Regions from separate parts of the Homo sapiens genome. Here regions 1, 2, 4 and 5 are each linked to region 3. Evidence: fine-mapped expression QTL. A gene starts in region 3. Each other region holds a variant in brackets. All regions are shown on one strand. Distances are between the middles of the regions. Region 1 overlaps ST7L (suppression of tumorigenicity 7 like). Region 2 overlaps ST7L (suppression of tumorigenicity 7 like). Region 3 holds the start of ST7L (suppression of tumorigenicity 7 like). Region 4 overlaps WNT2B (Wnt family member 2B). Region 5 overlaps ST7L (suppression of tumorigenicity 7 like).

What was found. PIP is the estimated chance that this variant, and not a neighbour inherited with it, causes the effect.
Region 1: its variant is the best candidate, but not a certain one, in a credible set for the expression of ST7L in monocytes after triphosphate RNA (Kim-Hellmuth 2017, PIP 0.54).
Region 2: its variant is the best candidate, but not a certain one, in a credible set for the expression of ST7L in subcutaneous fat (FUSION, PIP 0.89).
Region 4: its variant is the best candidate, but not a certain one, in a credible set for the expression of ST7L in prefrontal cortex (GTEx, PIP 0.87).
Region 5: its variant is the best candidate, but not a certain one, in a credible set for the expression of ST7L in spinal cord (GTEx, PIP 0.74).

Annotation. Positions count from the first base shown.
Region 1 is chr1:112,564,326-112,569,325 of GRCh38, reverse strand. The region is part of intron 11 of ST7L (suppression of tumorigenicity 7 like); the gene reads left to right. Among named protein-coding and RNA genes, the nearest start is that of ST7L, 52 kb to the left of the region's middle. The variant G/A (reference allele first, on the strand shown) is at 3,029.
Region 2 is chr1:112,571,380-112,577,658 of GRCh38, reverse strand. It overlaps ST7L (suppression of tumorigenicity 7 like), which reads left to right. Exons shown (of 15, transcript NM_017744.5): 11 at 571-673. Among named protein-coding and RNA genes, the nearest start is that of ST7L, 45 kb to the left of the region's middle. The variant G/A (reference allele first, on the strand shown) is at 2,442.
Region 3 is chr1:112,617,202-112,622,201 of GRCh38, reverse strand. It overlaps ST7L (suppression of tumorigenicity 7 like), which reads left to right and starts at 3,061. Exons shown (of 15, transcript NM_017744.5): 1 at 3,061-3,293. The coding sequence starts at 3,089. CAPZA1 (capping actin protein of muscle Z-line subunit alpha 1) reads right to left here and starts at 2,370. Exons shown (of 10, transcript NM_006135.3): 1 at 2,319-2,370. The coding sequence starts at 2,357. RefSeq lists enhancers at 2,088-2,537, 1,690-2,889, 2,998-3,097.
Region 4 is chr1:112,513,978-112,518,977 of GRCh38, reverse strand. WNT2B (Wnt family member 2B) reads right to left here. Exons shown (of 5, transcript NM_024494.3): 2 at 3,884-4,104; 3 at 2,561-2,838; 4 at 1,593-1,857. It also overlaps a transcript of ST7L not described here. Among named protein-coding and RNA genes, the nearest start is that of WNT2B, 7.5 kb to the right of the region's middle. The variant A/T (reference allele first, on the strand shown) is at 2,380.
Region 5 is chr1:112,530,181-112,536,871 of GRCh38, reverse strand. All of the region lies in intron 14 of ST7L (suppression of tumorigenicity 7 like), which reads left to right. Among named protein-coding and RNA genes, the nearest start is that of WNT2B, 25 kb to the right of the region's middle. The variant A/G (reference allele first, on the strand shown) is at 2,738.

The DNA.
Region 1 (5,000 bases), 53 kb after region 3:
GGACATTTGGGTTGGTTTCACTTTTTGACTAGCATGAATAATGCTGTTATGAACATTCATGTACAAGTTTTTGTGTGAACATAAATTTTTCAATTCTCTCAAGTATACACCTAGAAGTGGAACTGGTAGATCGCAAGTAATTCTGTTTAATTTTTTGAGAGACTGCCAAACTGTTTTGCAGAGTAACTGCATTATTTTACATTCCCTCAGCAATGTGTGAGTTCCAGTTCCTCTACATTTGTCTCAACACTTATTATTATCTGTCTTTTTTATTATAGTTATCCCAATGGGTATGAAGTGATATTTCATTGTAGTTTTGTTTTGTATTTCCCTAATGACTAATGATATTAAGCATCACTTTAATATGTTTATTGGCTGTTTGTGTTTTTTCTTTGGACAGATATATGTTCAAGTTGCATATTTTTAAATTTTTGTTTTATATATATATATATATATATATATATTTATATTTATATTTATAAAAAACAGGGTCTCCCTATGTTGCCCGGGCTCGTCTCAAACTCCTGGGCTCCAGGGATCCTCCTGCCTCAGCTTCCCGAAGTGCTAGGATTACAGGCTTGAGTCACTGTGCCTGGCCTAAATTTGTTTTTTTGTTGTTGTTTTTTTGTTTTTTAAATTAAAGGTATTCTATTTATCTTTTTATTATAAGGTATTCTTTAACATTATTATTGGCCAGGCGCAGTGGCTCATGCCTGTAATCCCAGCACTTTGGGAGGCTGAGGCGGGCGAATCACAAGGTCAGGAGATCGAGACCATCCTGGCTAACACGGTGAAACTCCGTCTCTACTAAAAATACAAAAATTAGCCAGGCATGGTGGTGGGCGCCTGTAGTCCCAGCTACTTGGGAGGCTGAGGCAGGAGAATGGCATGAACCTGGGAGGCAGAGCTTGCAGTGAGCCGAGATCATGCCACTGCACTCCAGCCTGGGCGACAAAGCAAGACTCCGTCTCACAAAAAAAAAAAAAAAAAAAAAATATTATTACAGTAGACCATTGACACTCTTGATTAATGTGATCCAGAACCATTGTGAATATCCACATTTGAAAATGCCACTATTACATGTATTTTCACCTATGAAATGTAAACATGAGAATGGGTCACAAACCTTGCTGAGATACAGATGCTAAAGAGCCTGCTAGATGTATTCATTAGGTACATCATTCACATGCGTGCACAAGCCTCAAAGCATGTTATTCAAATTTGTGCCTTAGCAAAATGATGCCTGCTATACATCATGGGTATTTGGAGCTCCCACAAAGAGTAGAAATTGTAAACGTTAGATCCCTGAATGTCAGTGATCTACTATAAATGTAACTATTGTTGGTATGACACTTCACACATCAGTTAGAATAATATCGCCCAACTTTAAGATCTAACAATGGCTTGCTGTAATATTTTATTGATGATTTTTAAAGTAAGCATACTATAGCTGAATTCTTCTAAATTTTATTTTATATTCAAATATAAAATAATTACTATAAAAAACAAAATCACAGAATGGATCCACATATATACTGTCATATATGTGACAAAACATTCACATATATACTGTCAATTGATTTTTGACAAAAGCACCAATGCAATTCAATGGGGAAATGGAACTTCAACAAATGGTACTAGAACATCTGGATATCTAAATGTGGTGGGAGGGAATCATGAATTTTTTTCACATAGCATACACAAAAATTAATTTGAAATGTGTCATTGATCTAAATATAAAAACCAAAACTATACAACATCTAGACCAAAACATCTAAGACTATCTTTGAAAGCTGGGGGTAAAGAAAGATTTCCTAGGACATAGAAGGCAATTATAAGAGAAGACAATTACAAATTGAACTTTATCAAAATTTTAAAAGTCTGCTCATGTTAGTGTTAAGACAAAAAGGCAAGCCATGGACAGGAAAAAATATTTGTAATATGTTTATCTGACAAAGGACTCGTATCCAAAATATATACATATAAAAAAACACAATATTAAAAAATGGGCAAAAGCCTTGAACAGATACTACAAAAGAAAATATTGGAATGTCCAATAACACATAAAGAGATGTTCATATGAAGGTAAAATGAAGCAGGCAAAAAAAGAAAAGATGTTCAACATCATTAGTTATGAGAGAAATGCAATATAAAGTCATGAAGTAATACTTTCACATCTATCAGAATGACTAAAATTTAAAAGACTGATAAAATGTCAATAAGAATGTGAAAGTCAGAACTTTCATACACTGCTGCTAAGATTACAAAATGGTACAACCACTTTGGAAAACTGGCAATTTCTGATACAATTAAATATATCCTTCAACCTGTGATCCAGCAATCCTACTCCAAGGTATATACCCAAGAGAAATGAAATCATATGTCCACAAGAAGAGTTGAACATGAATATCATAGCAGTTCTATTTATAATAGCCCCAAACTAGAAACAATCCCAATGTCCTTCAATAGGTAAATAGATAAGTAAGTTACAATACAGTGGTATTCAGCAATAAAAAGACCTACTGATACAAGCAAAACATGAATGAAACCAAAAATATGACATATAAACAAGTACTTACTGAATGATTCCATTTATGTGAAGTTCAAGAAAAGGCAAAAAGTGATCTGTGGTGGTAGAAATGAAAACACTGTTTGCCTCAGGTGGTCAGGTGAAACATTCATTAACTAGAAAGGAGAACTTCCTGGAGTGAAAGAAGATACGTTTTGATGGCCAGGCGCAGTGGCTCATGCCTGTAATCCCAACACTTTGGGAGGCTGAGGAGGGCGGATCACGAGGTCAGGAGTTCGAGACCAGCCTGGCCAGCATGGTGAAACCCCATCTCGACTAAAAATACAAAAAATTAGCTGGACATGGTGGCACACACCTGTAGTCCCAGCTACTTGGGAGGCTGAGGCAGGAGAATCACTTGAACCCAGGAGGTGGAGGTTGCAGTGAGCCTATATCACGCCACTGCACTCCAGCCTAGATGACAGAGCAAGACTCTGTCTCAAAAAAAAAAAAAAAAAA[G/A]AAGAAGAAGAAAAAGAAATAAAAGAAAATATGTCTTGATTTGGGCATTACTTGTCTACATTTGTCAAAACTCATCAAGCCGCATATTTAGGATCTATGTATTTAAAATTATACCTCAATAAAGAAAAAAGAATTTGACTTAGCATGGAAAGCATTGTAAAAGTATCATGCCTTCTGATGAAATTAGATAATGTATGTGAAGTGCTTAACACAGTGTCTGAGTGTCAGGCTATTATTGATTATCATGGTGGTTGTCACTTTATTTCTGTACCTTTTTTTTTTTTCTTGAGACAGAGTTTTGTTCTGTCATCCAGGCTGGAGTGCAGTGGCATGATCATGACTCACTGCAGCCTCAGCCTGGTGGGCTCAAGTGATCCTCCCACCTAAGCCTTCCTAGTAGCTGGGACTACAGGTGCATGCCACGGAGCTAATTTTTGTATTTTTTGTAGAGATGGGGTTTTGCCATTTGTCCAGGCTGGTCTTGAACTCCTGGGCTCAAGCAGTCCGCCCACCTTGGCCTCCCAAAGTGCTGGGATTACAGGCATGAGCCACTGTGCCTGGCCCATCTTCTTTGAGTTGTTCAGTGTTTGTTTCTTTGTGGATGTTATTTTAGTGTTTGTAGCCTTAGAATGTATAAGGTTTGGGGGATTCCTTTGTTGAGATGAGGTAGTGGTGAAGATTTTGAAAACAGTTAGGAATTAACTAATTTGAATTAGCTAATAACGTAATAATAGTTAGGTAATAACTAATTTGAATTAGTTACAATACCCTGAAAACAGTTTGTGTCTTACAGAAGAAGCCCTTAGGGCAAGAGTAAAGTAGAGCAGTAAGAAACAAAACAATAACAAAAGTGTGTTTAGTAAATCCTTATAACTGGAGTACATATTTAGAAATTCGCTATCTGTAGCATTTAAAAGTTACTATTTTGGCTGGGCGTGGTGGCTCACGCCTGCAATCCCAGCACTTTGGGAGGCCGAGATGGGTTGGATCATCTGAGGTTAGGCGTTTGAGACCAGCCTGGCCGACATGGTGAAACCCTGTCTCTACTGAAAATACAAAAAAAAAAAAAAAAAAAAAAAAAAAAAATTAGCCGAACATGGTGGTGGGCGCCTGTAATCCCAGCTACTTGGGAGGCTGAGGCAGGAGAATCGCTTGAACCTGGACGGCAGAGGTTGCAGTGAGCCGAGATCGCGCCATTGCACTCCAGCCTGGGCAACAAGAGCAAAGCTCCATCTCAAATAATAATAATAATAAATAAAAATTACTATTTCTTATTTTACAATAAAACTGCTTTTAGTGTTATGCTGCCAAGAAAGTAGACTATACCTGGAGACTTTTAAGTGCAGAGGAAGTTTTAAAAATAAATTGATACATAGAAAGTAAAATCTGTTCTGGTTGATCAGAAATGGAAGCCCGTAGAATGTTACAAGTCTTATCCACCCTAGAAGATAGTAGCTCTTTTTTTTTTTTTTTTTTTTTTGAGATGCAGTTTTGCTCTTGTTGCCCAGGCTGGAGTGCAATGGCACAGTCTCGGCTCACTGCAACCTCCGCCTCCTGGGTTCAAGCAATTCTCCTGCCTCAGCCTCCCAAGTAGCTGGGATTATAGGCACCCGCCACCACACCTGGGCAATTTTTGTATTTTTAGTAGAGGCAGGGTTTCACCATGTTGGCCAGGCTGGTCTTGAACTCCTGACCTCAGGTGAGCCACCTGCCTTGGCCTCCCAAAGTGCTGAGCCACTGCTCCCAGCTGATAGTAGCTCTTTAGCAGCAGACTTGCATTTCACTGGCTAAACTACTTATATCATAGCACCGGCATATATAAAAGATAAAAGGGAAACAGGTGCTCAGTTGACATTCCGAGTGGCATAGCAGGGGTAAAGAGAGCAAAGGAGAAGTGTTGAAGTCTGTGACCCAAACTTAGAGCACAATGAAACCTTTGCCTTTCCCTTATGTTGTACTGTGGCCTAAGTAG
Region 2 (6,279 bases), 45 kb after region 3:
TACCTTCAGTGGACTTCTCCTGAAGGCCTTCTTTACCTAAGTTTGAAGACTTTCATTCCTTATGCTGCTTTGTTTTTTCTATGTTGAACCCACAAGACTATACTTTTTTTTTTTTTTTTTTTTTTTTTGAGACAGAGTTTCACTCTTGTTGCCCAGGCTGGAGTGCAATGGCACAATCTTGGCTCACTGCAACCTCTGCCTCCCGGGTACAAGTGATTCTCCTGCCTCAGCCTCCCATGTGTGCCTGGGACTACAGGCACACACCACCACACCCAGCTAATTTTGTATTTGTAGTAGAGACGGGGTTTCTCCATGTTGGTCAGGCTGGTCTCTAACTCCTGAGCTCAGGTGATCCACCTATCTCAGCCTCCCAAAGTGCTGGGATTACAAGCATGAGCCACTGCGCCCGGCCAGCTTTAATTTTTTTTTTTTTTTTGTTAGTCCTCTGGCTTTGTTTTTGGCCATCTCCAGAAACTTCTTTTGATTCAAGGGGCTGTATTATTATCTAAATTCATACTTTTTTTCTTTTTTTTAGCATATTTATTTTTTCATTTTGTGGTTTTCTTGTAGATTCTCTCCAGAAACAGCCTCCAGAAGAGGATTAAGCACAGCAGAAATTAATGCCGTGGAAGCAATTCATAGAGCTGTGGAATTTAATCCTCATGTTCCAAAAGTGAGAAATTTTATGATAAAAATACTACCTTTATTTAAGTTTATCAAATTGATGACAGTTCGTAGACCAGAGTCTGGGTCACCATAATTTGGTGCAGAATTGTTTTAATCTGCTATATTTTGATGCTTATTATTCACCTTACAGGGGACGTTGAAACATTTAGGCATTTAGAAAGGTAGATAGGAGCAATAGTTAGCTATATGCTTTGTAATTACTATCAAAATATAATTTGAACTGTGTTCACTTAGCTGTTCTTTTAGTATAGTTGTAGAAAATAAATAATGGGTTGGTCTTAATAAAAGATTATTCATATTTCTTATCACTAAATCAAATTTCCTGTTACTGTGAAAGCTTTTTCTAGACAGATGCCTGGGTTTTGAACTAGGGTTGGGTAGACAAAAACTGAAGACAAACAGATTAAAATAATCAATGATAGGAGGCAGATGTGGAAATTCCCAGAAAAACTGGCTGATGCTTATTTCGTCCCCAATGAGTCTATATACTTGCTTTGTCTTTATATTGTACACCTTGCAGTTATACAAATTATTGCTTAATCTTTGTGTGTTACAACACAAAATTAAATTTTGGGGTTTGGGCTGGGCACAGTGGCTCATGCCTATAATCTCAACACTTTGGGAGGCCGAGGTGGGAGGATTACTTGAGCCCAGGAGTTTGGGACTAGCGGCTGGGCAATGTGGTGAGACCTCATCTCTGCAAAAAATATAAAAATTATCTGAGTGTGGTGATGCTTCCTGTTGTCTCAGCTACTTGGGAGACCAAGGGGAGAAGATTGCTTGAGTCCAGGAGGTCGAGACTGTAGTGAGCTGCAATCACGCCACTGCACTGAAGCCTTGGGTGACAGAGTGAAACCCCATCTCAAAAAAAAAATTGGGGTTCTACAAACAATGCCCCATGTTAGGAAGTATAGACAATTCAAGAATAGATGCCCTTACTACGGAAAGTAATTATAGCTATTGATTCCAGTGAAAGGGTGTTAATAGAGCTTGGAAGCTAAAGAGCTACAGTAAAGAGATTAATTGCTAAAAGATAATTTCCAAGAAAAGGATGTTGTAAGCCTGTTAGAGTAAGTAAAGATATGGTTAAGAAAAGTACTTAAATCCAAGAAAGAGAGTCAACAAATATTTATACCATTCTCTCATTAAGTGACACTGGTTCCATAAATTTAAAGACAGCGGTTCACCCATATCTATGGTTTTGCATTCCATGGTTTCAGTTACCACAGTCAGCCTCTGTCTGAAAATATTACATGGAAAATTCCAGAAATAAACAATTCATAAGTTTTAAGTTGCATGCCGTTCTGAGTAGCTTGATGAAATCTTACACCATCCCCCTCCATCCAGGCTAGTACATGACTCATCCCCTTGTCCAGCATATCCAACACTGTCTATGCTACCCGCCCATTAGTCACTTAGTAGCCAACTCGGTTATCAGATCGACTGTCATGGTATCATAGTGCTTGTGTTCAGGTAACCTTTATCTTACTTAATAGTGACCCCAAATGCAAGATTGACATATTGTTATAACTGTTCTATTTTATCATTAGTTATTGTTATTAGTCTCTTACTGTGCCTAAATTATAAATTAAATTCTATCATGGGCATATATTTAGAGGAAAAAACATGGTGTACGTAGGGTTTGGTACTATTTGTGGTTTCAGATATCCACTGGGAGTCTTAAAACATATGTACTGAGGATAAGGAGTGAGTACTGTAAACTTTTATTTTTCTTTAGACAGAGTTTTGCTTTC[G/A]CCCAAGCTGGAGTACAGTGGCAGAATCTTGGCTCACTGCAACCTCCGCCTCCAGAGTTCAAGCGATTCTTCTGCCTCAGCCTCCCAAGTAGCTGGGACTACAGGTGCGCGCCACCACGCCCAGCTAATTATTTTGTATTTTTAGTAGAGACGAGGTTTCACCATGTTAGCTAGTATGGTCTCGATCTCCTGACCTTGTGATCCGCCCGCCTCAGCCTCCCAAAGTGCTGGGATTACAGGCATAAGCCACCGCGCCCAGCCTTGTAAACTTTTTATTATGAGTTCTACTACACATGCAGCAAAGTGTATGAGACAAAAATGTGCATCTTAATGATTTATTACAAAGTAAATGCTTGAAAACTATCGAGATCAAGAAACAGAACATTATCAACCCACAGACGCCTACCTGACTGCCCTTTCCCATTACAACCTCCCTTCCTACCTAAAGGTAACCACTATTCTTATTCATTTGTATTCTTATTTATTAATTATGTTTATTTCCTCCCTTTATGTTTTTTATCTGTACTTTTTATTTATGGATTTTTTTTCTTTTTTTTTTGAGACGGAGTCTTGTTCTGTCGCCCAGGCTGGAGTGCAGTGGCGTGATCTAGGCTCACTGCAAGCTCTGCCTCCCGGGTTTATGCCATTCTCCTGCCTCAGCCTCCCAAGTAGCTGAGACTGCAGGCGCCCGCCACCACGCCTGGCTAATTTTTTGTATTTTTAGTAGAGACGAGGTTTCACAGTGTTAGCCAGGATGGTCTCGATCTCCTGACCTTGTGATCCGCCCGCCTTGGCCTCCCAAAGTGCTGGGATTACAGGCGTGAGCCAGTGCGTCTGGCTTTTTTTTTCTTTTTAAGACAGACTCTTCAGCTATTCGAGAGGCTGAGGCAGGAGAATTGCTTGAACTCAGGAGGCAGAGGTTGCAGTGAGCCGAGATAGTGCCATTACACCGCAGCCTGGGTGACAGAGTGAGACTCTGTCTCATTAAAAAAAAAAAAAAAGTCCGGGCGCAGTGGCTCACACCTGTAATCCCAGCACTTTGGGAGGCCGAGGTGGGTGGATCGCCTAAGCTCAAGAGTTCAAGACCACCCAGGGCAGCATGGTGAAACCCTGTCTCTACTAAAAATACAAAAAAATTAACCGGGTGTGGTGGGGTGCGCCTGTAGTCCCAGCTACTTGGGGGGCTGAGGCAGGAGAATCACTTGAGTCCTAGAGATGAAGGTTGCAGTGAGCCGAGATCGCACCACTGCACTCCAGCTTGGGCTACAGAGTGAGACTCCGTCTCAAAAAAAAAAAAAAAAAAAAAACAGGAAAAGAAAAAACGAAGACAGGGTCTTGCTCTCATGCCCAGGCTGGAGTGCAGTGGTGTGATCTTGGCCCACTGCAACCTCCACCTCCTGGGCTCAAGCGATCTGCCCGCCTCAGCCTCCCAAAGTGCTGGGATTACAGGTGTGAGCAAACATATGCCTGGCCCTGGATTTATAAATGAGTTAAAGAGTGGTCCCTGTTTATTTATTCTGTGGAATAATTTGTATAAAATTAGAATTATTTCTGCCCTAAATGATTAGTAAATTTGTTATTAAAGCCATCTGATTCTTCAGTTTTCTTTGTGAGAAGACTTTGAGTTACAAATTTCATTTCTTTAATAGTTTAATTACAAATTCAATTTCTAAGCATATCATAACTATTGAAATTTTTTGTTTCTTCTTATGTTTTTGTTAAGTTGTATTTTTCTAAAAATTTATTTCATCAAAATTCTCAAATGTATTGACATAAGGTATTCATAAAATCCTTTTATTGCCATATTAGTATTTGCAGCATTAGTTGTAATACTCAATTTTTAATTCTTTTTTTTTTTTTTTTTTTTTTGAGAGGGAGTTTTGCTCTTGCTGCCCGGGCTGGAGTGCAATGGCGCGATCTCGGCTCACTGCAACCTCCACCTCCCGGGTTCAGGTGATTCTCCTGCCTCAGCCTCCTGAGTAGCTGGGATTACAGGCATGCGCCACCATACCCAGCTAATTTTGTATTTTCGGTTGAGATGGGGTTTCTCCATATTGGTCAGGTTGGTGTCAAACTCCCAACCTCAGATGATCAGCCCGCCTCGGCCTCCCAAAGTGCTGAGATTACAGGCATAAGCTACTGCACCTGGCCCCACTTTTTAATTCCTAACCTTGGCTAGTTTTATTTTTCTTGATCAGGTTCTTTAGGGATTTGCCAATCTTACTTGTTTTTGCCAAGAACTTGGCTCTGGCTTTGTTGGGTTTTTTCTACTATTTATTTTCTGGTTCATTCATTTCTGCTCTTTATTGCCTTCCTTCAACTTAATTTGAGTTTATTTTATTTTAATTTCCTGTGTCTTCTCACATAGGTACTTAACTCTGTAATTTTCGTCTTTCTTCTGATATACCCAGTTAAATCTAGAAACTTCTCTCAACACAATTTTAACTGCATACTATAGCAACATTTTTTACATAATTTAGTTCAAAATATTTTCTTTAAAAAAAAATAGAGACAGGATCTCCACATGTTGCCCAGACTGGTCTTGAACTCCTGGCCTCAAGCATCCTCCCTCCTCAGCCTCCCAAAGTGCTGGGATTACAGGTGTGAGCCACCTCCCTTGGCCCAAAATATTTTCTAATCTGTTTATAATTTCATCTTTGATTTAGAGTTATATTTATTCCATGAAGGTAGATATAATAAACAAAAGATTTTCTTCAAATTTTTTTTCTTCTTTTTCTTTTTTCTGCTTTGCTCATGTTGAGAAACAACAGATTTCCAAAGTAGATGAAACAGCCTTCTATTGGAAGAAGATGCCAACTAAGACTTTCATAGCTAGAGAGGAGAAGTTGTTCCTGGCTTCAAAGCTTCAGAGGACAAGCTGACTCTCTTCTTAGGGGCTAATGCAGCTGGTGACTTTAAGTTGAAGCCAGTGCTTACTTACCATTCCAAAAATCCTAGGGTCTTTAAGAATTATGCTAAATCTTCTCTGCCTGTGCTCTATAAATGGAACAACAAAGCCTGGATGACAGCACATCTGTTTATAGCATGGTTTAAACACTATTTTAGGCCCACTGTTGAGACCTACTGCTGAGACATGATTCTTTTTAAAATATTACTGCTCATTGACAATGTACCTAGTCACCCAAGAGCTCTGTTGGAGATGTACAAGGAGATTAATGTTTCCACACCTGCTAACACAACAGCCATTCTGCAGCCCACAGATCAAGAAGTCATTTTGACTTGGAAGTCCTATTATTTCAGAAATACATTTAGTAAGGCCGTAGGTCCCATATATAGTGATTCCTCTGGTGGATCTGGGCAAAGTAAATTTTATATGTCATGGGAAACCAAAAAATTTGTGTGACTTGCTTTATTTTGATATTTGCTTTATTGCAGTGGTCTGGAAGTGAACTTGCAATATGTCCAAGATATGTCTATAGTTACAAACATGAATTTTGGGATATATAAAGTATGCTTCATTAAAACTATATAGGCTGGGCGTGGTGGCTCACACCTGTAATCCCAGCCCTTTGGGAGGCCGAAGCGGGTGGATCACCTGAGGTCAGGAGTTCGAGACCAGCCTGACCAACATGGAGAAACCCCATCTCTACTAAAAATACAAAATTAGCCAGGCCTGGTGGCACATGCCTGTAACCCCAGCTACTCAGGAGGCTGAGGCAGGAGAATCACTTGAACCTGGGAGGTGGAGGTTGCAGTGAGCCAAGATCATGCCATTGTACTCTGCCTGGGCAACAAGAGCGAAACTCTGTCTCAAATAAATAAATAAAACTATATAGATATATAGATAGATAGATATACATACACACATATACACTTT
Region 3 (5,000 bases):
TATCACCAAATTTTCTAAAGGTTCACTGCCTTTAGAAAATGTAACAAAGATAAAAAACAATATTAAAATATACTTGGCAACAAAAAAAGTATGCTAGAAGAGGAAACTGGTCACAGATCTGCTATTAAAAAAAACAATACTGGCTGGGCTCGGTGGCTCACGCCTGTAATCCCAGCACTTTGGGAGGCCAAGGCGGGCAGATCATGAGGTCAGGAGTTCGAGACCAGCCTGGCCAACATAGTGAAACCCCGTCTCTACTAAAAATACAAAAAATTAGCCAGGCTTGGTGGCGGGCGCCTGTAATCCTAGCTACTCGAGAGGCTGAGGCAGGAGAATCGCTTGAACCAGAGAGGCAGAGGTTGCAGCGAGCGGAGATCGCACCACTGCACACCACCCCGGGTGACAGAGCGAGACTCCATCTCAAAAAAAAAAAAAAAAAACCATAACCCAAGACATTAATGTTATTAATTAAAACACTGCCAGTATCTAAAGGCATCTTAATTGGCATTTTAAAATATATATTTTCCCAAGTTTAATTAAAGGCATTCTAACCTGGTATCAAAGACAAAAATCCAACAACACTGGTCAATGTGTATCAGGTAGGCACAATAAACTTAAAAGTTTATTATTTAAATTATTTGTGAAATTTTGGCCGGCCGCGGTGGCTTACGCCTGTAATCCCAGCACTTTAAGTGGCGAAGACGGATGGATCGTTTGAGCCCAAGAGTTTGAGACCGGCCTGGGCAACAAGACGAAACCCACTCTCTACAAGAAATACAAAAATTAGCTGGACTTGGTGGCGGGTGCCTGTAATCCCAGCTACTCGGGAAGCTGAGGCAGGAGAATAATTTGAACCAGGGAGGCGGAAGTTGCAGTGAGCCGAGCGAGACTCCGTCTCAAAAAAAAAAAAAAATTGTTTAGTTGTATTGTAACAGGATTTTTGCTTAATTTTATTTGAATAGTAACTATTTGCCTTAGAACAATTTATTATAGATCGATTTCCAGCATAGGCTTATACATAAATGTTTTTGTCCTAAATCTTAAACATGTATGAAGATCAGTTTCCAAATAAGAGAAAATCTAACGCTGTTGTCAATGGCTTGTTAAACATTTCAAAATGGCATGCCATATCTACATATATCAAGTTATTCCGTACAGAGGACTTATGGATCATAACAGTCCCCTTCCCATCCCAACTTCTTATTGAAAAAAACACCCAGGTAGATTTACAGAGCACTCAAGGGGACACATTTTCTAATAGCCACAGTGGGAGACAAATGTCATAATTCTTGTCCAATAAGTTGCCTTGTGAGGTCATTCTAAGTTCTACGTGCCCTAAAACCATGTACTTACTGAAAAGCCTGACAAACTGTTATGAAACTGTGCAACTGTCAGAAGAAAAGTTATTCCACCTTAGAATGTGCTCTTGTATTTAAGACCCTTTTCAAGAAATGAGCATACAAAATGCACACTGACAAATTCAACTGATCAAAGACTCCACAGTGGAGCATCAAAGAAGGCAGGATGCTTTGTTCAGTCTTGAACGTGTTAACATAAGGTTTATTATGTGTTACAGAAAACCTTTCTGGAGGTTAAGAAAATCCATCAGCTATTCTAGATTTGTTAACAAGAAACAAAATTTTCAAAAATTATCGTTAAAAGGGATGTGTCTATAGGGAAAGACTGGTGTTCAAATTCTGAAGCAAATGCCCTGAGGCTCACAGATTTATTATAGCGAATCAGACAGGCGACAGTACAGGAGAAAAGTAGTGCATGTGTAGGGAGATGGACAACATTTGGGACCTCTCCTTGTCGAAGAGTCGTGACAGCAAAATCACTTCCTGAGGAAGGAGGAGCAAAAGGGAAGTTAAGAGGCCATCCTGACCAGGAAGTGACTCGCCCTAAACTAACCCCAATTATATCTACAAATGGGGGGATGGGGTGAGCCCCAACTGCTAAAGGCGGTAAAATAACTGCTTTTTGATATGTCGCAACATAACCACCACCCTCTCGCAAAATTACAGAAAAAAGTCCACAGTCACGATCCAATAAAGGAAACGTCTGTTCCCTTGCAGGGAGGCCCCTGGGCTGTGCCTCAGGCCTGAGAGAAAAGGAGAGTCGAGGAACGAGGAACTGGGGCCACCGTGAGGCAGAGGAAAGCCCCCTAAGAGGGAAGCGTCCCGACTGCGGAGAGCGTATGTCAGCATGGACCAAGAAGCTTCTTTTTCCTGGGGACACTGCTAGGCTCCCAACGCAGCCGGGCCGGGCCCCAGTTCCCTGTCGGGGGAGGAGGTAAGAGAGAGAGGCGGACCCCTTACCTTCTCCTCATCCGACACACGATCATCGAAGTCGGCCATCTTGGGCTGTTCTGGCCCAGCCCGGCTACGGGCGCGAGGCAGGCCGGGAAGAAAGCCGAGTGATGGAATCACCGCGGCGGCCGTCGGAAGGACCCGCCCGGAAACGCCGACCAAGAGGGCCCCATGTCAGTTATGCGCGGGAGTGACGTCTCCTAACGCCAGCGCCCGCGCCCGCGCCCCAGGAAGTAGGGTTTGCCTTAGGTGATTTGAAGTCTAATATCTTTCCCAATGAGTTACACTCATTTCCCATCCATCTAATGGGCGCTGGCAGCGTGTTTCGATTATTCTTGGCTTCTGGCCTCCATCCGACCAAATAGCTGTTGCTACTCCTACAAGTTTTTCTGGTGCCCGTTATCTCCACGACAGCCGAATCCAAAGCTTTAAGAGCTGCTCGGCAGCTGGAACGATCGGTGGCTTTTCCAACCCCGGGGGGGGGGCGGTGTGAAAGGTGACCCTCATTTCGTTTGGAAGCGGTAACACTTCGGGGTCACATCTCAGTCCAGTTCCTCCAGAATAGGCGCTGCTGTCCGCCCCTTCCCTGCCCCACGAAAGAACAGGTAGCCCCAATCTTGAGACACGCTCCTCCACCTTCGAAATCTTCTCGGTCCCGGTTCCCCAGGACTCAGCCTTCACAGAGGCCAACTTCAGGTCCGCCACTATCCCAGGATTCCCGACTCCCGGTTTCCTGTCCTTCTCCCCTCCCAGCTCCTGGCGCCTGCGATAGCGGCAAGATGGCGGACCGTGGCGGCGTGGGTGAAGCCGCAGCTGTTGGAGCGTCTCCTGCATCTGTCCCTGGCCTAAACCCGACGCTAGGCTGGAGGGAGCGACTGCGGGCCGGGCTGGCGGGGACTGGGGCCTCGTTGTGGTTCGTGGCGGGGCTGGGGCTGCTTTACGCCCTGAGGATCCCTTTGAGGCTGTGTGAGAATTTGGCAGCGGGTGAGAGGACCAGACCTCCTGGGGCAGGGCGGGGGGCCAGGAGAGATGTCGGGGGCAAGAGCCAAAGGGCAAGAGATTCTCGGTAGTCCTAGAGGGCCTCTGAGGAGTCGATGATGAGCGATCAAGTGAGTTCTTTTTCTTTTGGGCTGCAACCTTGCAGTTGATTGACAAGCCTGCTGCCGTTACCGGCTCCTCCGTAGAACTCTTAAGGTCCGCCCTCTCTCTTATGTCCTCGTTTTTCCATGGAAAAGCCACCTGACAAGCTATAAGCTTCAGGTATTAGGACAGAAGAGTGTCTCAGATTAGGATACGTAATTTATATTGGCTCCCCCACCTCTGGTAGGATCCCTTAAAAGTCACTACTTTGAGTCTCCCGCTGCCCAGCTGAAAGAACTCATATCCAGGCAACAAAGATGAGCACATCTGTAATTTAAAGATTTCAGAGAAAGAAAATGGCATGATTTTAATTGAGGATTCTCTTGTTTTAAAATAGTTCTGTTAAGAAATCGTTTTCGTGATAGTTTTGTCTGTTCTTTTAGGCTTATCTTGAGTAATAAAATAGTACAGGAAGTGAGAGCGCCACAAACAACAGTGGGTTTGCTAGTTCTTTCGACGTCTGTAGAACACTTGCTACGTATTCTGTGCTGACAATACGAACACATGTAAGAAGTGATGATCCTGATGGATTCTCATATACTGTACTATTCTTTAGCTGTAGACAGGATGAAGTGTTTAGGGCCCAGGTCCCCTTACCATGTGATTATATTTCACTCAAGATCTGAGCAGCAACCTCAGAACAAGATATAAGTATTTCCATTACATGATTCAGTATGGTGGTTGATTTTTCTGAAGCAAAAGGCAGCAAATGTCCCCTTTCCTGTTCAGAGATGACATGAAAGACTGTGAGTTAATGTTCGGAAATATTTTGGTTTTTTTGGAGGATAGGTATCAAGTTCAAATATAACTAGCACTCTAAAATAAGCTAAACTGAAGAGCTAATTTGGCATCTCTGTAACAGGTGAATGAAGTGCTTAACGGTGGTTTCTATGCACAGTGTTACTGATTGACTTGTCATTTATTTTTCTACGTTAACCATATGCAACATTTAGATGAGAATAGTTGATTACTATAGATTTTTCTTTTTTACGTTTCGTGTGTGTGTGTGTGTGTGTGTGTGTGTGTGTGTGTGTGAGAGAGAGAAAGACAGACAGAGTCTCCCTTTGTCACCCAGGCTGAAGTGTAGTGGCAAGATCACTGCAGCCTTGAACTCTTCTGCTTAAGCGATCCTCTGGCCTCAGCCTCCCAAGTAGCTGGGACTGCAGGCGTGCACCACCACGACTGGCTGAGTTTTAAATTTTGCGTAGAGACTGGGTCTATTTTATTTGCCCAGGCTGGTCTTGAACTTCTGGCTACCAGTGATCCTCCTGCCTTGGCCTCCCAAAACTCTGAGATTATGGGAGTGAGCCATCCTACCTGGCCAGATTTTTATTTTCTTTCTAAAACCCACAGTACTTATGAGATAATTATTTGAAGTGAAAAATCTGCTCCAGGATTTCAGTAACTCAGGGAGATTTCTGTTTGTTGCTTTTCTCTTTGAGCCATTTTGCCTCTCTAGCTGATATACCAAATACATATGCTGTTTCCTTCCCTCTAATTTGAGACAGTGGTTTTGTATCCTACCAAAATAAATATGGAGTAGTTTTGAAC
Region 4 (5,000 bases), 100 kb after region 3:
AAAATTTAGCTCCTCAGTCACACTAGTTATATTCCAAGTACTCAGTAATCACATGTGGCTAGTTGCTACTGTATTGGACAACAGAGATAGGAAAACATTTCTATCATCACAGAAAGTTCAATTGGACTCTATTGCTTTGGAGGGAATTCCTGGCTCCATATTCTTTCTGGGATGACTTATATTCTTTGAATTCCAGGGCCCACTTTGGGTTTTAGGAGGCCTAATTTTATGCCTCTGAGAAAAACGAACACACATTTGACTTATCCTCCCTCCTAACTCCAAAGTTCCTTCCCTAAAGGTGTATTTTCAGTATGGTAGTATAGGTTTACACCTCAGATGTTATGGAATTATTTCTAGGTATCCAGAGAGTGACCCTCTGAATTAGACCAAGTGGGAGGAAAGTATACTTAGTGGCAGGAAATCACTAGGAAAATCAGAAGGGCTCCAAGTTTTTTTCTTCTAGCACCCTACAAAGTATACAGACTACTTTCTTCATTAATTGGGTAGAGCCCCACCCTTTTTCTGTGCCCAGTTTTACTCCAAGCCACTTGACTCTTCCAGGAATGACAGTGATGGGTGAAAACAAACAGTACCGAAGATAGCTGAGGTTTTTTGGCTCCACTTCACCCAAGTCCTGACGCTGAGCCTGTAGAAAAGAGCCTGGGAGCCCCACAGCAATAACCAGAGGAGAAGAGTTCTGCTGCATTGCATGTTCCTAGTTTAACCTATCTGAACCAGAAATGTGAGCCAGGATGGTAACTTTCATTCCCTTGGGGAAAAACCATATCAACTTCCAGCACCTCCAAGAATCCCACCACAAATACCTCGAACAGACTGAAAAACAACCATTTGCTGCTTTACCTGCCTTTGGTAGGGATCTCTTCTTCGTTTCTTTTTCAGCTGTTTCAGAATCTTCAATGGCAGCACACTGGATAAAGCCTTTCAAGGACATCTTTCTAGCTTTAATCTCCCTTAGAGAGAACCTTTACCCAGCAGATTGGTCTGTTCTCTGTCCCTGGGACAGATCATGTGCTTTCCCACCTACTACTCTCTGATAAGAAATTGCCCACTCGTCTCTCAAGCTATCCAGATACTCCCTACACTTCAAGGAGCAGCTTAAATTCTAGTTTCTTTTTTTTCCCTACATTTTCAAATAAACTTTATTGATTTCTCCATCTCTCTTTGCATTTGTCTACCCATTATGTCTCATTTCTTTAAGTAGATTGCGAAGAGCCAAAGGCTTAGGGCTGCATCTTATGTTTCTGTGCAGCCCACACATTGCTTAAAACTGAAAACAGGTAACTAAGTTAAACATACCCTGAATAATGCCTACTGTATCCCAGATGCTGGGATACAAAGGAGCGATGCATGACCTCAGGCCTCAAGGAGCTGAGTGACCTCCTCTCTACTTGGGCAGCACTGGGCCTGGTGGACTGCAACAATCTCATGACCAGGTGTTCATGTGGAGAGGAAACTGCCTCCTCCCACAGCACCCCCTTCCCTAACTCCTGAGACTGAACAGACCATGATTAACCAGGGGTGCCTGCACTAAGAACTGGGACTGCATGTCCCTGCCTGCCTTCCTTACTCACCTGCAGCCTTGTCCAAGACACAGTAATCTGGAGAGTTGTCAAAGTAGACAAGATCAGTCCGGGTGGCACGGCGATAGCCTTGGCGGGCTGCGGTGAAGTTGGCACCATCTTGGGTGGCCATCACCTGCACAGCCCCATCATAGCGTCGCCGCAGGTAATCACCTGTGCGGCGGAAATCTGAGAGTGCACGCCAGCAGGTGCGCAGAGTACAGGAACCACTCACGCCATGGCACTTACACTCCAGCTTCAGAAACCGCCGCACAGCCTGGGGGAGGGGGAAGGCAGTTAAGGGAGAAGTAGCTGGTCAGGACACATTTTAGTCATCCCTAGGTCCAAAAGGATGAGTGCTCTGAGATAGGCTGGACCTGGCCCTGGCTGGCCGATTGAGCTCTCGGTTCTCTCCCACATCAGATCCCACCCATTCTTCCTGATCAAGTTCAAGAAACTCTTTTTCCAGGAAATCTGCCTGAACCAACAGTGCTTTCCTTTTCATGACAGCCCACTGAACTGTAGAGCCACAGGATTCTGTTCACGATGACAGTGTGCTTGCACATCCTCTACTTTTCACGTTTTAGAGTGCCAGGTACCATGCCTTCTACTTTAGTGGTGTGCCATTTTCCAGCATAGTACTAGGCACATAGAAGATGTTCAAATACCAGGGAACTGACTAGAACAACCTCTTATCCTCTCAGTCTTTATGAAGGCAGTTCTTTTCCTTCTTAAAAAGTTACTTCTTTTCTCCACCTTTTCCTACTTTCCACCTATGTGAAGACTCTTCACGCACCTG[A/T]TTGACCCTAGGCATTCCTAAGCTCCCTTGCATTTAGTTCTCCTGTCCCAGGATGTTGGGGCTTTTGGAAGTGACCCAGAAGCCTTCAGCTCTTCCATCTTCACATTTATTTAGTCCATGGTCACACACACTGGTCACCCCCAGCAAATATGAGTGTACTTACACAGACATGAGTACTGACCGTGCGACCACAGCGGTTATTATGTAAGTTCATGAGGGCCCGGGCATCCTTAAGCCTCTTCTCCTTGGCATCCACGAAGGCCTTGGCAAAACGGACACCGTAGTGGATGTTGTCACTGCAGCCACCCCAGTCAAAGTCCCCACGCTGGTCATGGTGTCGGCCACGGGTGTAGGGGTCACAGCTGCACACACTCAGTTCACCCTGGCTACAGGCGCGAGTAATAGCGTGGACTACCCCTGCTGATGAGATGGCATATACAAAAGCTGCCTCTCGGCTACCTAGAGAGAGAATTGTAGAGGTGTGCTTCAGGAAAGAGGCCCATGTCTGTCCCCTTCTTCAGCCCATACAACCTCTGACTCTGAAACCTCTTCCCTAATTTTCTTTCCCAGAGTCACCCCTACACCCCCTTTATTCAAGGTGCCTTTCATTTCCAAGAGCATTCCCCAGAGTATCTGACCTCTTCCCCTCAGCCCTCACTACTCTCTATCCACTTCTTTGTATATCTGACCTTTTGAGCTGACCTATACTCTTGTTTCCTGCCAAATTCCCTGTGTCCATCCATTGAAAAGTCTCCTGGTGAATCATCCCCTCCCACTGAGTGCCAGCACTGGCTCAGCTAAGCCTGCCTTAGTCCACATTCCAGGCCTTTTCAGGCCCACTCTGCTGGACAGTTCCCCCACAATGGAGACCCCAGCCCAGGGGTCAGCCTGTTTAGAGATCCATGCTACCCTCCCTTGCCTGCTTGCTCTCCCTCCCTGCTCTTGGAGACTGATGAATTATCGCCCCTGTATGCCTGACACCTCCAGATTCCCATCTTGTTCCCTTTCTCCTAGTTTACTGTCTAGCTCTATTTAGCTTTTTTGCTGAGCTGAGGCCAAGCCACTGACTCTCCAAATATTTACATATCACCTTTCTGTTTATCTTTTGTTCCCATTACTGTAGTGTTGGGAGTGTTGGGGTGACGATAGTGATGGTGGTGTTAAGAACAGAGGGCCTATCATAGACCTCAGCCTTACAGTACATGGTAGCCTCCCAAGCTGGGGATTGGGGAGGACAAGGAAAATGAGGGAGAAAGATGGAGGTTCTAGGGAATGCTTTACCTTGGTCTTGTCCCAGAGCACTAAGATTTAGAGGAGCCCCTGTCTACAAATCTAAGATGCTAAGAGTCTGTTCCCAATTATATCCTGGGCTCTGCCCACAGTTCTTTCTCTGATGATGAAACAGTGTGTGGGAGAGGAGAGGGGAGATCTTGCCTACTCTTCCCACTCACCACCCCCAGCACAGAAAGGGAAGGAGCTGACACAGGATGGAAGAGGCTCTTACTTCTGAGCATGACACGGCCAAAGACGGTGTGGTCCCGGTCCAGGGTGGTACAGTTCCAGCGGTGGTGGCGGAATTGGTGCTGACACTCTCGGATCCATTCTCGGGCACCCTCGCCCACTGAACGCATGATGTCTGGGTAACGCTGGCACAGCTGCCGCTGCCGGCTCACCAAACCAGGGATATTGTCACAGATCACTCGTGCCCCCAGTGCCCCAATGTACCTGCAAGGCAGAGATGGCCCTGTCAGAACATCCCAGACCTTTTTCTGCATTGGGAGGGAATAAGGAAGGGGTACGTTTAGCATCCAGACCTTGAAGAGATTCTGTCCCCTCTCCCTAACCCACATTCCATAAAGCTGATGAGTAGAACCATTTCCCACAGTTCTGAAGAAGTATTAATAGTTATACAGTTGCAGAGAGAGTAATTGAGTGGCCTCCCACCATCACCAGTTCCCCAGCCAAAGGCCAAAGTGACATACACTCCCAGAACACAGGCTAGGCATGTGTCACATACACAGAAGCTGTGGGCATGTCACACAAACTCATTGTCTGTTTATTTAATAAACATTAAGAGCTTCATGGAAACATAAACTAACAAAATAAGGGTCTGAGACAACACTCTTATGCTCCCATTAAGAGGGATGTCCCGCATGGCTGGTCCACGAAGATATGGTTTGACAGCAGGGGGGTGGTGACAGGGAGGGGCTCGTGGGAAGAGACATAGTGAGCAATCTGAGTAACGTTTACAGCTCTAGTCAGACCCGTGTAGCTAAAAAAAATCCTCATTCCCAATCGTGAGGTCCGGGGAGGAAGACCCCACCCTCTACTCTCCTCCTCAAACCCTTTATTTCCAGGCCCCAGGGCCTTTCTTAACTAATGAACCTTTTAAAACCATCTTCCCCAACCTGGATGGACCTGCAAGGGCTGTCTGCAGTGGGAAGCCAAAGGCCAAGATAAGTAAGAGGATGACTCTCCCCACACTGCAGTCTCCAGTCTGTCCAATATGAACAATTAAAAGAAGGTCAATTGAGATGGGCTACTAAAGAATAGGTGGGTTGCCAGAGTCATTATTGTTTCTCAAGGCAATATTTTCTCTTCACTCAGTTTTAACCCTGGAT
Region 5 (6,691 bases), 86 kb after region 3:
AGTTTGTTTTACTGAACGCATATTGTAGCTGTGCTGCGGTGGGAATGGGCTTTGTTTCCACATATTTCTACTAATCTTTATGTGGGAAAATGTGGTTGGACATGCCAATGATGAATTTCTGAGCAACTCATAATTGGCTGGCTCCACTGTAACTAGGGCCTTACAATCTGCTTGATTAATTCTTTAAGGACTACATTAGCCAAGTTGCATGATTTCCAAAGATATAGAAGGTCAGATGTTACACTAACAAAGAACCTCTCTACAGAATGTCTCACTGGGGTTTCTTTAGTCCCTTCTCAAAAATAATTAAAATTTTTCTTCCCAAATTACATTTTTAAAAGAATAAGCAGATATAAATGCCAAGTGTCTTTTACTGAAAAGTGAACAAAACTTTTGGGAAGATTTGTCCACTATTCTTACCATTTTTTTCAGGGAAAAGATTGATCTTCAGAACCGGGGGAGTTAATAAACAATTATAACTATATATTAATGTATACCAATTGAAAAATATATGTTTTTTTAAAGGTTCTGAGTTTTCCATTATTATAACCTGTGACATGATAGTTGTATACTTCTTTATTAAATTCCTAGGGCCACATTCAGAAATTAAATTAATGATTAAAATAAATTTCTTCACTTTGTTTGAAAATGGATTACTTTCAAAGCTATGAGACTTTTTTAGTTCGTAAGAACTGATACAGTTTTAAAAACATTTTGAAATGTAACTAAACTTACATTTCTGTAAAATATTCTATAACCATGCTATTTCCACAGTTATAAATCTGAGTTGTTTCCCAGAGATAATACAGATAATAAAATAAACCTATTGTGTGACAGGTCAAAATTTTTAAATGTTTACATATTTGTTCCATTGTTGGTGCATCTAAAGTCTTTATTTGGGCAGTCTCGCATATTCAATTTTAATTTTCTTTACTAACTGGGATTTTGGATCAAGAGAAAAGACGTTCTCTACCTCCTAGAAGGGTATTTCTCATGTTTCATCCTTGTTTTTCTGCTTCAAAAAGAACCAAACTAAGAAATTTGTGAAATTGCTGGTATTATTATTCATCCAGATTTTCTAAGCACTGAGCTCTTCTAAGGGGGAAAGAAAATAATAAAAGTTAGGAAAATGTACTTTTTTTTTTTTTTGAGACAGAGTCTCACTCTCTCACCCAGGCAGGAGTGCAGTGGTGCCATCTCGGCTCACTGCAACCTGGGCTCAAGTGATCCTCCCACCTCAGCCTCCCGAGTAGCTGGGACTACAAGTATGTGCCTCCATGCTAGGCTAATTTTTAAAAATTTGTTATAGAGATGGGGTCTCACTTTGTTGCCCAGGCTGGTCTCCAACTCCTGAGCTCAAGCAATCTGTCCACACCGGCCTACCAAAATGCTGGGATTACAGGCTTGAGCCACCGTGCCCAGCCATGTCAATGTACTTCTTCTTCTTCATCTTCTTCTTCTTCTTCTTCTTCTTCTTATTATTATTAGTATTATTATTTGGAGACAGAGTCTGCCTCTGTTGCCCAGGATGGAGTGCAGTGGCACCATCTGGGCTCACTGCAATCTCCACCTTCCTGGCTCAAACCATATGCCCACCTCAGCCTCCCAAGTAGTTGGGACTACAATATGTACCACCATGCCTGGCTAATTTTTGTATTTTTGGTAGAGACAGGGTTTCACCATGTTGGCCAGGCTAGTCTTGAACTCCTGAACTCAAGTGATCCACCCACCTGGGCCTCCCAAAGTGCTGGGATTACAGGTGTGAGCCACTGCGCCCAGCCAACAATATACCGTTTAACGCATGTGTATATCCCTTCCCCAGGGTTTAATTCAGTTTTAAAGTTGGTAGAAAGTATCCTTTTTTCCCATTAACATGTGCCTGTCAAGTATGAGGTTCACAGAAGCTCTCCCAGAATTTGTTTCACATATGTTTAATCATCTTTTTTCCCCCTCAAAGTGAAAATCTCATTGCTAAAATTTAGGACATCATGTCACTAACTGCTACTGATATATTTATTGCTTAATCATTAGCGCTTGGGACACATGGAGTGCTTAGCAGTTTTTAGAAGAGCTGTGCTTAGATAGTGATATAAATCACTCATTCGAAACCCATTCTCCTAGTGATATTATAATTCACAATAGGAAACACTGATCTTTGTTTTAGAAAACATCTCTATCTTGCAGACCCAGCATAGTCCTCTAAATTGGGAGAATCATGGGGTACAGAAGAAAATTATAATATTGAGGAATAGTTTTTAGCTTTTATCTTGGTGGAGTTTGGCTCCCTTCCCCTACCAATCAAATGAACTAAATTAGTGAGACTACATAATATATTACAATTCTAAACCAAGAGTAACTCAGACTTCAGTTAGTGCTTCATTTTTTAAAAGAGATTATACTTATATCCTCATTTATTCTTACTGGAGCCATTGGAACATAGACTTACCGAAACCATGGGAACATTATAGATGTAAAGTTTGAGTCATCAAAGTTAAGTGATGTGCCTAAAATTACACAATTGATAAGATAGCTTATTACTTTTAGTCATGATACATACTTTTGATTTCAATAATATATCACTTCATAACTTACACTGAAATGAGTACAAAAGAATAAATTTCATACCAGAGATAGTAATGCTGAGGGAATAGAGAATGACAGAGTGGTGATATCCAGTGGCTTGCTAGAGAAACTTTCCTAAAAGAGTTAAATTTGGAGAAGAGTTTTAAATGAAGAT[A/G]CTGATGTGGATTGTCAGAAAAATAAAAAGGGTGCTTAGGTTGGAGAAATGTTTACTGCAAAGACAAGTATCAGTGGGCAAATAAGCTGCCTGGGAGTACTCTTCACAGTTTAAGTCTGTTTGATGAACTCCAATGCTTTAAAATAAAGAATGAAAGCTGTGCATGGTGGCTGACACCTGTAATCCCAGCACTTTGGGAGGCTGAGGTGGGAGGATTGCTTGAGCCCAGGAGTTCGAGACCAGCCTGGGCAATTACAGTAGTAATTATAGTAGTAAGAGCTCATAAAAATGAAAAGTAAAAATAAAAACAAATTAGCCAGGCATGGTGGCGCACCCCTGTAGTTTCAGCTACTTAGAAGGCGGAGACAGGAGAATCATCTGAGCCCAGGAGTTGGAGGTTATGGTAAGCCATGATAGCAACACCACATTCCAGCCTGGGACACAGAGCAAGACCTTGTCTTAAATAAATAGGTACATACATACATATATACATAAATTAATTACTTAAAAATAAAGAACTCAGCCGGGCGTGGTGGTTCACGCCTGTAATCCCAGCACTTTGGGAGGCCAAGGCAGGTGGATCATGAGTCAAGAGATCAAGACGATCCTGGCCAACATGGTGAAACCGCGTCTCTACTAAAAATACAAAAATTGGCTGGGCGTGGTGGCGCGCCTGTAGTCCCAGCTACTTGGGAGGCTGAGGCAGGAGAATCACTTGAACCCAGGAGGCCAAGATTGCCGTGAGCCAGGATCACGCCACTGCACTCCAGCCTGGCAACAGAGCGAGACTCCATCTCAAAAAAAAAAATAAAATAAAATAACGCACATATGCTTTTCTTTCAAACTGATTCATTCCAATGTCATTCCTCTTGCTAGTTAGCTACTTAAGAAAGAATGCCGCTTGGTCATTTACATTGCATACTCAAACGTTACTGCATAGACTTCAGCCTCTCTAAGTGCTTAAAATGTACAATAATACTAAAGAAACAGTAAGCCCTGGTTTGTAATGATTCAGAGGGAATTTGACTCTCAAGTTACTTTTTTAAAGTTTTAATATGAAGTATAAATGTATACCTTATGTTTCAATATCAGTCTTCTTTCAAAATCAAAGGGCAAGTTTGTGAAGGATTGTAGGGGAAAGATAAACTGAACATAATAAACTTTTGGTCTAAAATATCATAACCTATAACTTTTTTCCCTAAAGTAGGAATTTTAGGTAGCAGAGGTACTTCTAGTAATTGTATCAATAGGTAGGAAACTTGGGTGTGTTCCTTAATGCTCATGAGGCCTCAATAAAATATTGGGTTTTAATTGGGTGTTCTATCTGAATTTGAGGAAATCATAAAATTATCTTTGTTCTGTAATAACATTAAGATTGTCTTAAGTCTGTCTTGACAGTAGCCAGCTTCAAGGAGAGAAATTATTTGGGATTCAATAATACTTAACAAAATTAAGAGTAGGATATTCAGAGAATGCAGATCACATAATCACCTTCTGACCTCACTCTGTAATTTCAAGCATTCTAGAAATAAAACTGTTCAAAGTGTAGAAAAGGGCTATGTTTCCTTTAAACATCCTTGCAGATGACCAATGTGACAGAGAAAGATGCAGCTTAGGGGACAGTTGGAGAAGGGAGCACATTCCCACACTCTTTGTTAGGAACATGCCAGCTCTCGTCTTCATTTATTCAATATGCTGCAGTCCCAGTTTCTTTCTGAAGCCAGAGCTCATGCTTTTACTCCCAGGTAGCAGCAGCTTTACAATTAAATTTTAATCCGACAGTGTTGTTAGACTCCTATCAAGAGTACAGCCACAGCTGTTCTTGGCAGGCAAATACATTGCTGGTTTTCCTTCAGTCACAGTGAGATAGAAAAATGTTCTCTGTCTAGGGTGTGGACGAAGGCACTTTACTAATCTTATGCATAATTCATCCTTGGTTGCTGGGGCACTCAAAGTTGAAACTTTGCCCTCTGATAAAATTCAGCTGGATGTTTTTTATTTATTAGACTCTGATCCCTTTAGGGGTTTAGCCCTTATTGCGAGCCCAGGGATTCTAATTTGGCTAAGCCCTAGCTGTGAAGACTTTTCTTACTAATTTGCCCTTGGTGAATTTTAGCTCTTGTAATACCACCTTTAAAAAACAAAAAACAAAAACTGCAGTAGAACATGCAGTTCAGAGAGTCCTGGATAACCTGAAAAGAGTCTTCTTTGAATGTTGGCTTATTGAATGGAAGGACTCCAATAGGGCCTGTCTTGATTTGTTTTCAAAGTTTAGATTTGTAAAGAGCCTCAGCAAATTAAAACATGGTTTTAATTGTCCTATAACATGCTAAAATATGGTAATGATTGTCCTATAACATATAACAGGTCTTTGCATTTCAAATTCATTGGGTACCTGTGAAGTATAAAATATAATCCCTGTTCATAAGTAACTCATAGTCTAGTGGTAGGGGGTTTGAGATGGGCATGAAGATGTATTAGTATAAGGTGGAAGCTATTGCCACAATAGATGAGTTCATCCTTGAATATTCATTTATTTGACTGGAAGGGAATGGTGAGTTATTTTCACACGGCTCCCGTAAGATATAGTGACCCAAAAGGTCAGTCTAGACTAATAGATTATGCTTCCTTTCAGAAGAATTTATTCGGTTAGGTCAAGCAAGAACATATAGAAAGAGATATCTTTATTCTTTTCCAAATATGTGATGTGGAGTACTTTCATCTTTATACTCAGCAGCTGGAATTCATCTTTTTGTAAGCAGTGTTATTTATTATAATGTTTATATGAATATAATTTATCAAAAAATGGAGAGCTCCACAATTCAAAATTTAAGAAATGTCTCACCTCAGATTCACAGAGTAATTGCCTTAGACAAAAGCTCTACACTCATACATTTTATATACCTCTTTTATATCCTCTCATTCCTAATAATGACAGATTAATAAGAACTAATAGCCATCCTGGTTTTCAGTATGAAACAATGTGATTTCATGTGAAGAAGAATAGAATAGTAAGAGTTAGGACCAAAATTACTTAGTTCTTTGGGCATGTGAGAGAATAGGAAAGAGCTACCCAGAATTTTCCAGAGCTCACTTGATAATGTCAAGAGCTGCAGCTGGCAGTCACTGATTCTGAAAATAGGCACACATCATGTTAATCAAAAAACTAAATAAAAGGATATTGGGATAAGGCACTAAAATAAAGTTCCTTTTGCCCTTTCTTTATAGCTGGGTTTTGCTGATCAATTCTGCATTTTTTGGCAATTCTACCTCTTTACAGGGAGAACCACCAGTATTATTTTCTCTTTAAGTAACTGAAAAAATATTTCCTATCTTTATTGAGCTGTCTCATTAAAGTAACAGACTAGCTGGATCACTGGGGATATGACTTTGGGATATATGTTTTAAAATAGGCACAGAGGCTGGGTGCGGTGGCTCACTCCTGTAATCCCAACACTTTGGGAGGCCGAGGTGGGTAGATCATCTGAGGTCAGGAGTTTGAGACCAGCCTGGCCAACATGGTGAAACCTTGTCTCTACTAAAAACACAAAAATTAGCCTGATGTGGTGGCAGGCGCCTGTAATCCCAGCTACTCAGGAGGCTGAGGCAGGAGAATTGCTTGAACCTGGGAGGCGAAGGTTGCAGTGAGCCAAGATCACGCCACTGCACTCCAGCCCTAGTGACAGAGCGAGAATCCATCTCAAAAAACAAACAAAAAGGCACAGAACCTCTCCTTGAGTTTATACAAATTAGGCATGTAATCAGTAAATATGGTAAAATATGGTAAAATGTAATCAGTAAATATGGTAAAATGGTAGAAGAGCAGGCCCAAGGCTAAATTCTAAACTACTCATGCAAATATTATAATAATACTAGAGAGTTGTAGAATGTACTGATTAAACTAGTGTTGCAGTAGAAGAAAGGAAGATAAACTATTTGAACAACAACTTGGAG